2 separate regions of the Homo sapiens genome follow, and region 1 is linked to region 2. Evidence: fine-mapped expression QTL. A gene starts in region 2. The other region holds a variant in brackets. All regions are shown on one strand. Distances are from middle to middle. Region 1 has its middle 7.0 kb from the start of TLR8-AS1. Region 2 holds the start of TLR8 (toll like receptor 8).

The links. PIP is the estimated chance that this variant, and not a neighbour inherited with it, causes the effect.
Region 1: its variant is fine-mapped to the expression of TLR8 in breast (GTEx, PIP 0.96).

Annotation. Positions count from the first base shown.
Region 1 is chrX:12,945,935-12,954,750 of GRCh38, forward strand. No RefSeq gene overlaps it. Among named protein-coding and RNA genes, the nearest start is that of TLR8-AS1, 7.0 kb to the left of the region's middle. RefSeq lists cis regulatory regions at 831-1,274, 4,236-4,648, 4,918-5,347 and enhancers at 1,149-1,278, 4,276-4,570, 4,976-5,270, 5,201-5,430. The variant G/A (reference allele first, on the strand shown) is at 5,171.
Region 2 is chrX:12,903,060-12,911,875 of GRCh38, forward strand. It overlaps TLR8 (toll like receptor 8), which reads left to right and starts at 3,561. Exons shown (of 2, transcript NM_138636.5): 1 at 3,561-3,650. The coding sequence starts at 3,648. It overlaps TLR8-AS1 (TLR8 antisense RNA 1), which reads right to left. Exons shown (of 5, transcript NR_030727.1): 3 at 5,157-5,274; 4 at 3,131-3,192; 5 at 1-926.

The DNA of each region.
Region 1 (8,816 bases), 43 kb after region 2:
CAGGAAAACTTGCCTTCCTTTTTGGGAGCAAGTGAAACTCCAGAAAAGGAGTTATACAGCAAAATAAACTTTAGATCTCAACCAAATTTGGAGAGATCAGGGATTCTCTTGGTCGGGGGTGGGGGTGTCTCCCAGGCCTCAGCCAATTGTCCTACTGGCTTGAGCCATAAAGATAGCTCAAGCTGGTACCAAGCACCAACAGTAGATTTGTCAAAGGTCAGGGGTACCTCCACTCAGAATCCCTTCATGGTTACCAATTTGTGAATCCAAAATATCTGAGACAGGCCTCAGTCAATTTAGAAAGTTTATTTTGCCAAGGTTAAGGATGCACCCATGACACAGCCTCAAGAGGTCCTGGCTACATGGGCCCAAGGTGGTCGGAGCACAGCTTGGTTCTACACATTTTAGGGAGACGTGAGACATCAATCAACATGTGTAAGATGTACATTGGTTCCGTCCAGACAGGCAGGACAACTCGAATCAGGGGAGGGGGCTTCCAGATCACAGGTAGATAAGAGACATTTGTTGCATTCTATTGGGTCTCTGATTAGCCTTTCACTGAATATACAATTCACATGGGAGAGGAGGGTGGAGGAATAGTCACTTATGCCTGGTCTGCCTTGGTGAAACGACAGGGCAGAGGAAGCAATCAGATATGCATTTGTCTCACATGAGCCTCAGAGGGATGACTTTGAGCTCTGTCTGTCCTTTGTCCACGAGGAATTTCCTTGTGGGCAAATTGTGAGGGAGGTATGTCTTTTTTTTTTTTTTATCTTTGTAGCTGTCTTATTTAGGAATAAAATGGGAGGCAGGTTTGCTTGACGCAGTTCCCAGCTTGACTTCCCTTTAGCTTAGTGATTTTGGGGTCCCAAGATTTATTTTCCTTTCACAACTCCCATCTGATATATTTAAGGGGGAATTCTTTTGTGCCTACAGCATTGTTAGTGGAATGTGGAGCGACAGCAAGGGATGGGCCTAGCTGGAATTTACCACCAGGGGGCTTGGACTCTTTCTCATGCGTCAACACCAATCACTGCCAATAGGGGGCAGCAACAATTTGCCTACAGCCTTTAGGCTTTGGTTTTAGACTCAAGGAGCTCAGGGTGTGGAATCTCCATTGTTTTTCCTCTGAAACTTGGCTTCTTATCTGCCTGCGGACTCAAATCCTCCTCCTGCCAATACTACAACAGCCACAGAACAAATGCATTGAAACTGAGAGAACTGGTAAGAGGCTAGATCTAGTGTAAATCAGAGAATGGGCCTCATAAAAGGAGCAGTTTGGAGGAACCTAATCCTTCACAGTTTGTCTAGCAATTTCTAGGTTCAATCAATTGAGGGCTTAACTGGTAAACTCAAGTGGAAATTTTTTATTGGCTCCTGGTGATGTCACTCCTGGTGAGTGTGGGAGAACTGGTTTTCTAGGTGTGGGGATTCTTTATTCTCTGAAACACCCACTAGGAAACGCCCTGAGGCCTTTTCACCTTCTGTGGTGTCAGGACCTCTCATGTAACTGGATACAGTGCTTTTCCCAAACAGACTATACACAACAGAAACTCAAAAAATAGAAACGCTAAGTGGGAATAAGGGAAATAAACTACAAGAGTAGTGGTTCTCGACCTTGGCTGCACATGGGAATCACCTGGGAGCTTCAATCCGCAAGGACCAATGCCAGGGACCCCCCTACCCCCTGCCCCCGAGATTTGGATTAACTGGTCTGCATGCAACCAGGGCAGCTGGCGTTTTGAAAGGTCCCCAGGTGGTTCCCATGTACAGCCAAACTGAGAACCATTGTCAGATGTGCAGTCTTTGCTCCTGGGTCAATTAATTCCTCACGCCCACTAACTACTTTAGATGTCTTATGCTTTGAGCACATTTAAAATAAAACCCAAAACTTAATAAAACAAAGTTAGTACACAGAGAAATAGGAACCTGATTAAAATAGAACATGAAGTCAAGTCAGTTTGGTTTTGTTTTAAATCTCCAATTGCCACCATTAATTCTGCTCCCAAAGGTCAATAATGCTAGCCTGCTATTTGCTTTGTTCACTTCTGAATGAAGCACTTGTGTTTGCTGACCTTCAAACACTTCCAGGTTGTCTAAGAGGAAGCCATGTGGCACTTTGACTTTTGTGTGACCTGGCAATTTGTTTACATCAAATCCCTTTTAACCCTCTGCAGTTGACAGTGGAGAATTCAGTATTTTCATATGCTGCCTAACCTCTAGGGTGGAAGGCTTTAAACTTGATTTAGGTCAAGTTGGCAGTGACCCAGGTGAGCCCCCAGGAAACTGCACTTCCACAGCCAAAACGTGGCCATCCACCAACTTAGGCATGACAGTTACAGTTTTGAACCTGCTATTAAGTCCCACAATTCTCTTGGTTAGTTAGAGTAATCAAACCTGTCAAGGGTAGGCAGAACTGGAGGAGTGAAGAATGGTTTTGAGGGTACAGTGGAAAAATCAACTTTGGAGTATGACAAGCCAGCCTCAACACTCAGTCACTCTTACCAGCTGTGAGATCTTAGGTGGGTTTATCACTGGCTGTGAGCTTGACTTGCCTATCTATACTATAAAGGAATAAAAGCCCCTTCAGGTGGTTTTTCTTAAATAAATGGAATAGACCTGTCATGTGCTGGTAAATGTTTAACAACTGGTTCTCAAGGTGGTGGGGGCAGCCCTGATTTGGAGTATTTCCATGGTGTAAATACTGTCACCATGGCAGATCTCAAGACACCAGTGTGACAGCTCTGAATGTGGAATTGGGAAGAGGTATGCGCCATCTGGGATAAACCATCTCCTAGTACCTACCTAGAATGCAGCAGACACTCAGGATGTTATCCCCTGCCCTTCCCCCTCATAGGAACATCTATGCTGACAGAGACCTTTGCCATTATTAAAGCATTTTTACAAACACTATCTCATTACATTCTCAGGTGAGATGGGCAGGGCGGGTCTTATTTCTACTTTTTACAGACAAGAAGCCTCAGGCTCAGAGAGACTGGACAAAATTGCTCAGGGGCACACAGCAAGTAATCTACAAAATGAGCATAGCAGGCAGAGTAGCAGCCCCAAAACATGTCTGCATCCTAATCCCTGGAACCTATGAATATTTGGTTACATGGCAAAAGGGAATTTTGACTGCAGACGGATTTAATATTGCTAGTCAGGTGACCTCCAAGTAGGGAGATCATCCTAGATTATCCGGGTGGGCCTAGTGTAGTGACAAGGGCCCTTAAAAGTGAAGGAGGGCAGCTCAAGAGGAGAGTCAGGGGGAAATGTGACTATGCAGGACTGGTCAGAGAGATGTGACATTGCCAGCTTTGAAGATGGAGGAAGCAAGGAATCTAGAAGGCCTCTAGAAGCTGGAAAGGCAGGGAAGCAGCTTCTCCCCCAGAACCTCCATGAAAAGATGTAGCCTACCAGGTACGTTGATTTTGGCCCAGTGAGACTTCTGACCTCCAGAACTTTAAGATGATCAATTTGTGTTGTTTAAGCTGCTGGATCTGTGGTCCTTTGCTACTACAGGGATAGGAAATGAATTCAACGGGACTGGCAATCAGATCTCCTTATCCCTCAAATCTCAGCTCAAATTTCACCTCTTGAGGGAGCCATGTTTTTCCTGCCTTTTCTAGGCCTCTGGTTTTACCCGAGTTCTGATAATATCTGGCTTTAGGCACTCACCAGATGGTTGTGAATCTTTGCATACTTGCTGGTTTTCTCCCTAATCCCCAAGTGGCAAGAATATTCTTTTCACTTTGCATCACTTTCCACTAGCACAGCTCCTTCCCCAAGACCACAGCATAATAACTGCATTCAGAATGTGTGAGTGTGAAAATAGAGGAATGAATGAATGGGAGCTGACATTAACAATAGTACTGCACCCCAGCACCACCAGGAATCACGATGCTGAGCTGTCACTGTTGCAGAACAATTAAAAGCATCTCCTGCTAGTATCCTGAGCTACCTACCCCCTTCCTGCAGGAAAGACTTCCCGTCTTCCCACTGGCTCACAGAAGTGGCCTTTTCCTCCGGAAACCAGCGTGCATCTGTTAGCATCTTTTGTCTTTTGTGGGAAAGGGAGGATTCTGGCTCCAGACTGAAGAGGGACAGGCATGGTGTGTGGGTTCACAGAGCCCCAGACTCCAGACTCTGATGCCAGCATCTTTGTCTCAGCAAAGGTCATAATTGGATTTGGATGTTTAAGGCAGTCACTGATTTACTGTTCTCATTTTTCAAGTGTGAGAAATACTAACTCTGTGCTTTGCTTACTTCTAAAGGAACAAAGGCAGTATGAGCAGCCTTTAAATACTGCCACATAATACACTGAGAGCAGACATGACCACGTGCTACAAAGAGTCAGGGCTACGTAGGAAAGTTCACATCGGCGTGGGAAGTGAAAGTAAGCCACGTCACCGTTTCTGTCACGTGACAGCTGTGGGGTGTGGAGCAACTCACTGAGCCTCTTTCCTGGTGTGTAAGATGGGGATAATGATAGCTCCCATTCACTGACCGCTTCCAAAGTGCCTGACCCTGTTCTAAGCCTTCACTGTCATCCTGATTTTATAGTTAGACAGTTTGTCAGTGTCAGAAGCAGAATTGGCTACATAGTTTGCAAGTCCAGTGCCCTGGTTCAAAAATGATTAAGAATTTCAAGATGGTGGTAGCAGAGCAAAAAACCAAGCCCGGAGCCCTCCTTAGTGTGGCTCTTATGTGACTGCACAGGCTGCACACCCTGGGCAGAATTAGTATACAAATCCTGCAGCCTGACTCCAGAACCTTCCATCTTAACATCTATGCCACAAGAGCTGTCTCCTAAGGTGGCCGTGAGGTTGGAAATGAGACTAAGGCATTCCTGGCAGAGGGCACAGTGTGAATGATCTGGAAATACAGGCGTGGACAGGAAGATGAGGAAGGAATGATAAACTCTCATGGCTAAAGCTTTGGTGAGCTGAAGGAAACAGAAGTGTGCTGGTAGGCAGTACTGGCTGCAAACTGTGCCCTCCCTGAAGGCCAACTATAAAGTGCAAGGCCCTTGTACTTTATAGGCGACTGGTGTTGAGGATCGCTGGAAGGTTTAGAAGCAGGGGGTAGCATGGACGCAGGCAGAGAACTGCCCCTAGGGGGAAGTGTGGAGCAGAGCAGACTGGGGCCTGGGCACCCGCTAGAGGAGGCC[G/A]TTACAACCACACTCTAGGGATCTCATAGTGAGAGGCTCAGGGAGTAGAGGAAGGAAACAGGGAAAACTGAAGGTCTTCAAGGTAAGTAGAAATTATAGCTTTGGAATACGATCTGGAAACAGGAAACTGGGGGAAAGGAAAAGCTTCTGATGCCTGCTGGCCTGGCCTTCTGTTTGAGCGCCATCAGGCCCGTATGGAGTATCATGATGTACACAGACTGCCTTTGCACCCATAGAAAACAGGGTACATCTCTTCAGGAAGTAGAAACTCTTTGAGCAAAAGAAATCGATTTAACTTCCTAAAAACAACAGCTGTTACTGGCTATAAACTCAGTCATTTCTCAATTTGGGTTTTTCCCCCAAAATATTCCCTTCCAATTTTCAGAGGCATAATCAGTTCTGTGATTATGTTGCTTGCACATAATTAGATCACACAGTAATAATAATAACTGTAAACTCTGGAGGAAACAGAGTGCAATTAAAACCAGAAAGAAAAAAATCTCCCAAACCTCTCCCAGATTCTTCTCTCAAACTTGGGAGTGGGGCACCTCAAGCCCAGTGAAGGAATCAACATATTTTACCCCAAAATATATTTCTTTGACATATTTTGAGATGGCTGTTCACAGGGCCCGCAAACAGAAGCAGCCCTACAAAACTGTCTCATGTGGCGAAGATTTGCATCTGCAGAGAAAAACTACGTTGATACAGCCAGGCTTTCTCTGAGGCTCTCTCTTGTCCATATCTAGGAAAAACTGAGAGTCTGATACCTTTAAAGGTCTGAAAGAAACATTTACTATCTATTCTGTCTGAGAGCGGCTACCTCTGAGATTTCTCCTATGTAACAAGAACGCCTTTGCCAGCCAGGCCTCCTCTTCTCCCCATGCCATAATCTCTTTGCCAAGATCCAAGCCTCCAGTCTTTCTGTAACCTCAAGGCTTCTGTACCCCACTGCGGGGATTGGTAATCACTCTATGGTTCTCCTCCATGTGCACAATAAATTTGTATGCTTTTTCTCCAATTAATCTGCCTTTTAATTTATTATTATTATAAATTTTTTTTGAGACGGAGTCTTGCTCTGTTGCCCAGGCTGGAGTGCAGTGGTGTGATCTCAGCTCACTGCAACCTCCGCCTCCCAGGTTCAAGCAATTCTCCTGCCTCAGCCTCCCGAGTAGCTGGGATTACAGGTGCACGCCACCAAGCCTGGCTAATTTTTGTATTTTTAGTAGAGACAGGGTTTCACCATGTTGGCCAGGCTGGTCTCAAACTCCTGACCTTGTGATCCGCCTGCCTTGGCCTCCCAAAGTGCTGGGATTACAGGCGTGAGCCACCATGCCCGGCCTATTATATATATTTTAATGCTCTCTCTCAGCAGAGTCAAGAGGATTAGTTATCGGTGTGTTGGACATACTGAGTATAGGGGGTCTGTGGGATATGTAAGAAGAAATGACTACTGGGCTGTTGCATATGTGGTTCTTCATCTCATTTTGTTTTAGAGCCAGAGTCTCACTCTGTCACTTAGACTGGAGTTCAGTGGCGAGGCTTTTTTTTTTTTAGACAGGGTCTTAACTCTGTTGTTTAGGCTGGAGTGCAGTGGCACAATCATAGCTCACTGTAACCTTGAACTCCTGGGCTCAAGCAACCCTCCCACTTCAGCCTCCTGAGTAGCTGAGATGACAGGCACGTACCACCACTCCTGAATTTTTTAAAAAATGTTTTAGGCATGTACCACCACAACTAAAAATTAGGCGTGTGCCACCACACCTAGTATTTAAAAAAATGTTTTCGTAGAGACGGTGATCTCGTTATGTTGCCCAGGCTAGTCTCAAACTCCTGGACCCATGTGATCCTCTGGCCTCAAGCGATCCTCCAGCCTCAGCCTCAGCCTCCCAAAGTGCTCAGATTATACCCAGTGTGCCCAGTCTATTAATCTGCCTTTTTTGAGTTGATTTTTCAGTAAACCTTCAGAGGGCGAAGGGGAGGTTTTCCCTTGGCCCCTACCCTGGATTCAAATCCTAGCTCCCACTTCCCAACAATGTGACTTTGGGCAAGTCAGGTAACCTGGTTCTCTTCTATAATGTGAGGGAACCATTCTAGCACTTAACCTCAATCATACTGCATTACCTTGTTCTGAAGTTTAAATGAGAAATTCTTAGACTAGCCTTCAGCATGTAGTAAAGCAGGCCATAAATGTCAGATATTATCATAATCTCCAGATTTTCTACAGTGATTCTTGAATGACATTTAAGATCAGAAACATCCATGTAATTCTCATATTACTATCATTGTTATGTATTCTTTCTCTCCGAATGAAGAATGAAGGTACCATCCACTGACACCACAGTCACGAGGTTGGGTCAAGCCTTATGACCACCCTAGAAGCCTAGACAGAAGGGTTCAAAGGCTCTTCCTCTCATATGGGCTAGTAATAAACAGGGTCTCTAACAGAATAGCGGAAACCTGAGTTGAGCATGTTCATGAGGGAGGGGAAGCTGACGCCCACATCAGCACTTGTTTTCGAAGAGGAGCTGTCTTGGCCCAGAGCCGTGGCTCACGCCTGTAATCCCAGTATTTTGGGAGGCCAAAGTGGGAGAATTGCTTGAGCCCAAGAGTTCAAGTCTAGCCTGGGCAACATAGTGAGACCGTGTCTCTAGAAAAAATTTAAAAAATTAGACAGGCATGGTGGTGTGTGCCTGTGATCCCAGCTACTCGGGAGGCTGAGGTGGGAAGATTGCTTGAGCCTAGGAGGTCGAGGCTACAGTGAGCTATGATCACACCACTGCACTCCAGCCTGAGCAACAGAGCAAGACCCCGTCTTAAAAAAAAAAAAAAAAAAAAAAAGAGGAGCTCTCCAGATTAATAACAATCTCCCCAGTTTTCATGATTCAGGCGTCAAATCCTGCTGCCCCATATGGTTCTCACCACTCAACGAGTATTATTTACAGAGGGCCGTCGTTGCTATGTCCTGGAGATACAGAGACAAATAGGACCCAGGCCGACCACTGAGGAGATCCAACCTGATGGGGAAAGAAGACAGAGAACACACAAGTGGGGCTAGACACGGTGGCTCACACCTGTAATCCCAGCACTTTGGGAGGCTGAGGCGAGTGGATCACCAGAGATCAGGAGTTCAAGACTGGCATGGCCAACATGGTGAAACCCTGTCGCTACTACAAATACAAAAATTAGCCGAGTATGGTCCTGTAGTCCCAGCTACTGGGGAGGCTGAGGCAAGAGAATCGCTTGAACCCAGGAGGGAGGGGTTGTAGTGAGCCGGGATTGCGCCACTGTACTCCAGCCTGGGCGACAGAGAGAGACTCCATCTCTAAATAAATAAAAATAAAAAGAGAACACACAGGTGGCAGCAATTGGGACAAATGTCACTGCAGAAGACCTTCCAAGGGGGTATTGGGGGGTGAGGACCACATTTTGCCTTAGGGTGACAAAGAAGGTTCACACAGTGGGCCACTTTCCGGGGTGTTGGTGATCTGAATCTTGATGGGGAGGGTGGTTACATGCGCGTACATGGTTGTCTAGCACTCATCGAGGTACATTCAAGATGAATTTTATGTCAATTAAACCTCAGTCAGGTTGATAGTAAAGAGTCTGAAACATCGTGTTAGCACTTAGTGGGCTCTTGGGAATTCTT
Region 2 (8,816 bases):
CTGGTGAATGTAACACGGAGCCACCAAAATGTCATCCAGCAGAGAAAGTGGCAAGTACGACAGAGCTTTCCGTTCAGATCCAAGCTTTGCTGCTGAATTTGGGTAAATGACTGAGCCTTTATGAGCCTGTTTCCTCCTCTGAAAATGGGGATTATAGTAACAAGCAGAGAGAACAGGAGTGGTGGGTGGGTAGCGCCTTAAGTAGGTGTTGGTGCAGAGGACTCCATCCCATCTGGGCCACAGACCATCAGGAGGCACGTGGGGACTTGGGGACAAAGAAAACAAGCAGCCCATATCTGCCGGCAGGACCTGGCAAAGTGGGCGTGACACCAACAAGTTGCATCCCAGAGGTGACCACAAAGCGCCCAGGATTTGCAAAGCTAAGGTCAAGTGGAGGCAGGAGGAGACAGTTTCAGGAAACACCTGTGGCCTATCTCACCCGTGTCTTCCCTGGCCAGGGAAGGGCAGCCGCTTAAAGGGGCCAAGGGAAGCTGCAGCGTGGCTCCTAAACATGGACGCACAGTAGCTGTCCTCTCAGGAGCTCTGCACCCCCACTTAAAACCAGGATCACAAGAGATTTGTGTAAAGGAAGCCTCTTGTGCATTTCTTCATCTGAATCGTTGACTTAAAAGTTTCTTCCACGTAAGTCCTTTCACTTTAGCTTTGTATATATTTAGCATTGATTTCACAACAAACAACTGATTCCAGGCACTTGGTGTTTTCCCAGACCTTGAGCTTTTTCCAGGGTTGCACGTTATTTCCATATGTGGTACTTCGCGGCAGCCCCAGTATGGGGAAGCCATTTGCTGCCTTATGAATTGTCTGGTCATCCACTCGAGAGGAAAGGGCTGTGTCCAGGGCTGGGGAAGGCCCCAAGAGTGGTTCTTCAGGCCTACTGTTGGCAACAGCCCAGGAATGTGTGAAGTCTGTAACAACAAGCGTAGTAATAATAATTCCAGCTCTGCTAGTTGAACGCTCACTTTGTGCCAGCTACTTTTCTAAGAGTTCCACGATATGAACAATTTAATCCTCAAAGCCAACATCTGAGAAAGATACTACTATTCTTATCCCAATTTGACAGATGAGAAAACTAAGGCTCAGAGAGGCTTGTCTGCTGGTGATTTGTGTGTCTGGGAAGTGCACGTTGTCTGGCAGGCTTGCCTGGCAGAAGCGGTTCATGACAGGTCTTCTCCATTTTGGAATCAAGATCTGTGTCAGCATGGATGGCAAGGGGAAGAGTAAGGAAAGATTGGTCTAGGAGATGCCCAGGAGCTTTTGGCCTCACAGTGCAGGGTGGGGAGAGCAGACCTGGCCACCAAGGACCAGTTTCTGGGCTTGGGCAGAAGCCAATCATCTGGCTACTTTACAAGCAGATGGAGCTTCTTCCTCTCAGTAACCTTCCTGCCCTGGTGTCAATTCCATTTTCATTTTCATCTTTTATGGTACTGGTTGTGTGGAGAAAACTGAAGGCTCATTTGGTATAAGTAAGTAACTCATTTTTATGAGTTTGCTTGACATAGATACTAGACTGTATGTGTGTATATATACATATAAACATGCATATGTACATAAAAAATATATATATATCATATATACATGATGATACACACACACACACACACACACACACACACACATATATATATATACGTATACAAGCATGCTTTACAAGGCCAATTGACTGGTCTACAATTGGCTGACACTTGGTGGCCTAGAAGCCAGGGTATGTGAGTCTCGCTTTTCTAGAAAGCTGACAAACTCTCCAGTTCCAAGGATCCTTGCTCAGTCAACGGCTGGAAGTCATTTTTACTTCGCTGTTTTTTGTTTGTTTGTTTGTTTGTTTTTTTAGACAAAGTCTCATTCTGTCACCCAGGCTAGAGTGCAGTGGCACTATCATGGCTCACTGCAATCTCCACCTCCTGGGCTCAAGCGATCCTCCCACCTCAGCCACCCGAGTAACTGGGACTACAGGTGCACACCACCATGCCTGGCTAATTTTTGTATTTTTTTAGAGACAAGGTTTTGCCATGTTGCCCGGGTTGGTCTCAAACCCCTGAGCACAAGTGATCCTCCTGCCTCGGCCTCTACAAAGTGCTGGAATTACAGGTGTGAGCCACTGCACTCGATCCATTCTTACTTACTTTCTTTACTTTATTTCCAAGCAAATGTTTGGAGGGAAACCAAGAGACTTGGATGCGGCCAGCCGAGGCCTTTGGGTTTACAATCACAAATGTTTTTGGTTTGCCCATGAAGGCCCAGGCTGCACTCTCTGATGTCACAGGAATCACCTCTCAAACCATGCACCAGGTCTTGAATTCCCTTAGGGTGTGATCTTTAGAGGTCCATCTAGGTATACCCACCCAAGCCATTCTTTGACTGCTGACAGGCCTTCCTTCATAACAAGGTGTTCCACAGTCCATTTATATATGGATGTCATCTCTGCCCACCCTGCTGCCAATTTGGTTTTCTCCCACTCCTGGGGTGTAAGGCAAGATGAAACATATCACATCCCGTTCTAAACTTTATTCTTGTGGCCAGGGGTCAGCAAACTTTTTCTGTAAAGGGCCAGATGGCAAATATCTTAGGTTTTACAGGCCAAGAAGCAAATTTGGCATATTATGTAGCTACTTATATAGTAAAATAAAAATTTCCACAATTATGTAATTGATGAAACTCAAAATGTAATAATAATAATCGAAGGCAGTTTTTTTGTAGTATAGGTTTAATAATGAGAAGAATGGAATCATTTTTGGAGGTGCTAACATTCTGCTTGGTTGGAATTTAAAGTTAGTGTTCTGTATCAGCAAATCCATTGCCAATGTTCATCTAAAAATGTTTTCACTTCTGGGCCGGATTTCGTTCAAAGGCTGCAGTTTGCTGACCTCTGCTCTTGGTTACACCTTTTGAGGCCCTTGCTCTCCGAGCATAAAATGGAATCCATTTATCAGACTAAATCGGGAAGATTAAATTTTCCAGCCTCACGAATGCTCAGCCATTGACTCACTCGTTCATACAATGAACACTCATTGAGCTTATACTACATGCCAGGTGCTGGAGGAGGCATGGGGCGCCCAGGAGAAAGATGCTCGCTTTGCGGCCACAGCCCAGTGGGAGGGAGACCCATACCTACCGGTGCTGTCTCAGAAACTTGTGGAACAAAGATGAAGCAATGTTCATGTTATTCGCCTACATCTGTGAATTACACAAGGAAGACGAGTTTGAGAAATCCGAAGTTCAGTACAAATTTATGGTAACTTTTTTAAAAAAGAATACACTGAAGTTTTCTTAGTGAATGGAATAATGTTCCCTTTTTCTCCCCTGTACACACAAATACACAAAAACTAACAAAAATACGTCGTGTGTGTCTGATTTGGGTTGTATTTAAATCATTTCATAAATGACTTTTTCCCATAACTTCAGTTTCAAAGTTTTAAAGCACAGTCAATTAATGATTTGGCAACAGCTAAGAAATCACAAGTTCCCTTCTTTTCATGTAAACTTCTGTAAAACACACGCTACGTTCTGCTGATGGTAAATAGAGCCATTTCAGGAAGTTAGCCAGTTTCTCTTCTCGGCCACCTCCTGCATAGAGGGTACCATTCTGCGCTGCTGCAAGTTACGGAATGAAAAATTAGAACAACAGAAACATGGTAAGCCACTTCTATTTCTTTAGCAAAGCTTTCCAACAGAATATGGGGTTTCTGACCCAGAAATCTGGGTTGGTGGCAAATGGTGTGAGCCTAGAAAGTAATAAATGGGCAAATAAGGATAAAAATTAAAGATCGAAACAACTGTAAATGCAGGTAAAGCGGCTTGCTATGATCTTTAATTTGTGCACACGTTAGTATAAAGGAATTAGAGAGTAAATTTTGAAAATCAAATGCAGTGATGATCTTACTAATTTGGACAGGAAAATAAGAAAATTTCAAGTTAGAAATTGAACTGGAAATATTACTTACTGGCCCTACCAGAGACAATATCCTCTTCCAGAACAACAGGGTTGGAAGAGAAGGTGAGGGAAATATTCTTCCTTTGCTATTTCTGTAGAAAAGGACAAACTCTCTTCCTTCACATACATAGGTCAATTGCTAGATCCTAGTGAAGCCTGAGCTTAACCTACTGTTGGAGGCTTAAAGTTCGACATTAATTGCTACTTTTCTTGGTCAGAGTTTTAAATAATTAGGTTGGTACAAAAAACTGTGATTACTTTTCCACCAACCTAATAACATGCTACAATTTCTGTAATTATTATTTTACACTGTCAAGACATAGCAGGTGGTCCGTTTTTGTTATTGTCAAGAACTGTCAGACTAAAAATGAACTTTACACTTCTTTTTAAATGATACATTTTCTAGAAAATTCAATGAGGTTTAAGAGCAATTGAAAAGTCTGATTTCAAGAGAGTCTCATCCAAAATGTACTATATATTTTTCCCCAAAGTCCTTGGAGTTAATTTTGACAACAATTTAAAGTACACTTAAGTCTTTTGAAGTTAATGGGTCTGCCACCCAGGTTGGAGTGCAGTGGCGTGATCTCAGCTCACTGCAACCTCCGCCTCCCGGGTTCAAGCGATTCTCCTGCCTCAACCTCCCAAGTAGCTGGGACTACAGGTGTGTGCCACCACGCCTGGCTAATTTTTGTATTTTTAGTAGAGACGGGGTTTCTCCATGTTGGCCAGGCTGGTCTCGAACTCCTGACCTCAGGTGATCCGCCTGTCTCAGCCTCCCAAAGTGCTGGGATTACAGGCATGAGCCACCGCGCCCGGCCTGAAGTTAATTTTTATACCCACCTAATGTTCATTATGGATCTTGAAGGTAAATTAATTCTGCACTAAAATTTTACAATGCTTTACAAAATGACTGTAGGTGGCCCATATGGAATTCGGTCAACTGGGCCAATGACACATATGGGATTGCAGTTGAAATTATCCAATTCCTACTTGATATTTGTAAGCTGCTGTGATAGCCAGTATAATTGTACTGTAAGAATGTGGTAAATAGCCGGGGCCCGGTGGCTCACGCCTATAATCCCAGCACTTTGGGAAGCCGACGTGGGCGGATCACTTGAGGTCAGTAGGTAGAGACCAGCCCGGTCAACACGGCAAAACCTCGTCTCTACTAAAAATACAAAAATTAGCCAGGTGTGGTGGTACGCACCTGTAGTCCCAGCTACTCAGGAGGCTGAGGCAGGAGAATCGCTTGAGCCCATGAGGTGGATGTTGCAGTGAGCAAAGATCGCACCATTGTACTCCAGCCTGGGCAACGGAGTAAGACTCTGTTTCAAAACAACAACAACAACAACAACAACAGATTGGTAAATAGAGTAATAATAAAATCAAATTAAACTTGCAAAAAATGGCCACTTTGCTCCCACTGGTGGCCAATGGAGGTCAAGGACCTGGCTGACCTCCTGCCTAAAGGCAGAGGTTGTTAGCCTTCGCAATGGACTCAAATCAGAGGGGGAGCTTTCAAAACTCCTGCTGCCCAGACTGAACCCCAGATCAATGAAACCAAAATCTCTGGATACAGGGCTTGGCATTTGTAGCTTTTAGAGTTCCTAAGTATCTCTACTGTGCAGCCAAAGTTAAGAATCAGTGCCTTAGAACATCAACAGTTTTTTGGTCCTTTTGTTAAAAAGCACAGTCCGTTTTTTTAGGTGGCTAGAAATGCTCCAGGAAGAGCTGAAATGTATTTACCAGCCACCTTGGTTTGATTTTAGAAAGCAAAATAGAAGTTCTAAGTATGCTTTCTCTGAAAAGCTGAGACTGCAGATAAGAGTGAGGGCAGTTGATGGAGTTCATTCTCCTCTTTCAATCACTGCTTCTCATCCTTTCATTATAATAATCTAAGAATCTCAGAGATTATGAAAGAGAAAGCAGTCTTATGGAAGACCCCAGACTCACAGAATATTAGGGTGTGTTTCACAGGGAAGGATGTCATTACCCACAGTTAGTCTTTGAAACGCAGTTGGACATTATTTGTAAGTGCATCATAGTGTCGCCTCCAGGTTCCATTGAGGGGAACGTCATTCCAATGCAACATCTCTGAGTTCATCTGGGTTATTAAATGGGGTTGAGGGATTTGTTATTTTTAAATTAGTAGCCCCAATTTAGGACTACTCAAGACCATAGGACAAGCCTGTCCAACCCTCGGCCTGCGGGCTGCATATGGCCGAGGACAGCTTTGAATGCAGCCCAAGACAAATTCATAAACTTTCTGAAAATATTATGCATTTGTTTTTTAGCCCATCAGCTACTGTTAGTGTTAGTGTATTTTATGTGTGGCCCAAGACAATTCTTCTTCTTCCAGTGTGGCCCAGAGAAGCTGAAAGATTGGACACCCCTGCTATAAGACACAGTAATATAAATACATAACCTGTGGTTCTGGATTGGCATTAGCAGATACAGGCTGTGTTGATTTTGCAGAAAGTTACAAAGAGCTGCTAGTTGGTGTGTATGTCTAAAATCAGTAGATTTCCTGTGGTTCTAAGGAATGACAAAGAATCTGGAAGTTCTCTGTGGTAGCCTGCTCAGTGCAGAAAGGGAACGTGGAAAATCCGCCACCAGCATTTGAGTCTTGGAGGTTCCACATAGGGCTATCAGGTCTCTGCTGATCACTGAAACCAGATCATGGCCAACTAGCCCCTTGGCTTCAGCCCTCCCAATTCATTAACTACTCAGGTAAATCTAGGGTCACTTTCAACTCTACCACCTACCATCTGAGTGACCTTGAAAACATTCATCTCTCTGAGCCTCAGGTCCCATGTCTGTAAAGCAGGGGCCTCATGGACTTCTTTGGGTTTTTTTGTTTTTGTTTTTGTTTCTGAGGATTAAACAAATGCTCCCTACCCTATTTCCCAGCATCCAGTAACACAGTTTTTCATATTTTTGTGTATGTTAAGTCAGGACCCATCTCTTTAATGATAAGTGCACTTAATGTGGTCATGTTTTCTTTTGTCTTCCAAAGCTGTTAGTGAATCCATTGAATTTGGGATGGGTAAAATAAAGTATCTATTATTAATTGTAAATTTCATCTAAAGTGACAAATCCTACCTGCATAACCATTTCTTAATTTCCTTTCATCATGTATCAGTGGTCAACATTGTTAACTGCGAATGAATCAGAATCCATCAAAAATTAGAACTATTTCCAGTCTGGCAAAAATTCAGCTCTGGTTGAATCCAAACATTGTGCTGAAGCAGCTAAGTAATTCAACTGAGGAGATTAATTACATGTTATAATCAATAGGTTCTCTTGACACTTCAGTGTTAGGGAACATCAGCAAGACCCATCCCAGGAGACCTTGAAGGAAGCCTTTGAAAGGGAGAATGAAGGAGTCATCTTTGCAAAATAGCTCCTGCAGCCTGGGAAAGGAGACTAAAAAGGTAAAAAGCTGTTAATTCCAGGAAGACAGCTTTACGCCCCTCCCAGACCACCTGCACTGCACACTACGTGGAATTTATTTTAGTCTCACATGGCAGCGTCCCTACCTTTGTGCCCACACATCTGGTCTCCGCCCTGGCTGCAGCCCTCCCCTTCAGGCGAATTCTGGGTGTGTCCTATCTGCTCATTGCAACTCCCAGCGAATGAGTTTTCAGCGAAGGCAGACTTTCTGACCTGTTCTTCAAACTGCACTGGTCTTTTAAAAACGTGTTTGGTGGCCATCAGCATCCAATTTCAGAAGAAAGATTTGGGTGAGGACTGAGAGAGGCTGTTGTTGTTGTGCTGTCTGTTTCCTTCAGAATCTGCAGAAGAAAATTGGCAGGTCATGTACTGTGGACCTAACCAAAGGACAAATGATGTATGGAAAATAGAAAAACTGTTGTGAAATTGCTTCCTCATTAGCAATAACTGTATTTGGCAGGGAGAGGAGAAGTTGGGCACATTTTTTTTTCTTTTTTTTTTCATGATTCATACGTTTTCTTTAAAGAAGTGGGTTTTGCTTTTCACTGGGTGCTCTAAGACAACCCCAGTGAAAGATCTGGACCACGAAGACCCAGTCATCCTCATAAGGGTGTTCATTGCAGCAAGCTCAAGGGCATGCCAGGCAAAGGCCTTTTTTCTGGCAGCTTGAACTTGTCTCAGCAGAGGGTTTCACAGAACAACTGTCATTTACCTGTTCTCTGCTCTTACTTGATTCGTTTCCCAGGACTGCTGAAACAAAGTACCACAAACTTGGTGGATCAAAACAGCAGAAATATATCCTCTCACAGTTCTGGAAACCACAAGTCAGAAACCAATGTGTTGTTGGCAGGGTTGGTTCCTTCTTAAGGGGCTAGAGGGAAAATCTGTTTCATGCTCCTCTCCCAGCTTCTGGTGGTAGCTAGCAATTCTTGATGCTCTCTGGCTTGCCGCTGCATCTCTCTAGCCTTCACCTCTCCTCATGTGGGTGGCCTTCTTTCCTGTGTGTCTATTTCCAAATTCCCCTTTTCTTATAAGGGGACCAGTTATTGGATCAGGGCCCACCTTAATTCAGTAGATCCCATTTTAACTTGATGACATCAGCAAAGTCCAAATAAGGTTGTATTCACAGGTACCAGGGGTTAGAACTTCAAGTTATCTATTAGGGGACACAATTCAACCTAAAAACTCCCCTTTTTTGATTCTCTATTCTGCCACTTCTACTCAATCCAGGTTCTTCACTTCATCAGCTCCCAATCTAATACTTATCTTATTTCTAGTAAGCATCTCTTCCTTATCTTAACTGGTCCCTGGGGCCTGGCCCGAGCCCCATTATACCATCAGCTGTTGACATCAAGGGTGGACTTCTCTTTCGGCACAGAAGGCACAGGGCTGTAGGCTTCAGCCTTCTCTGCTT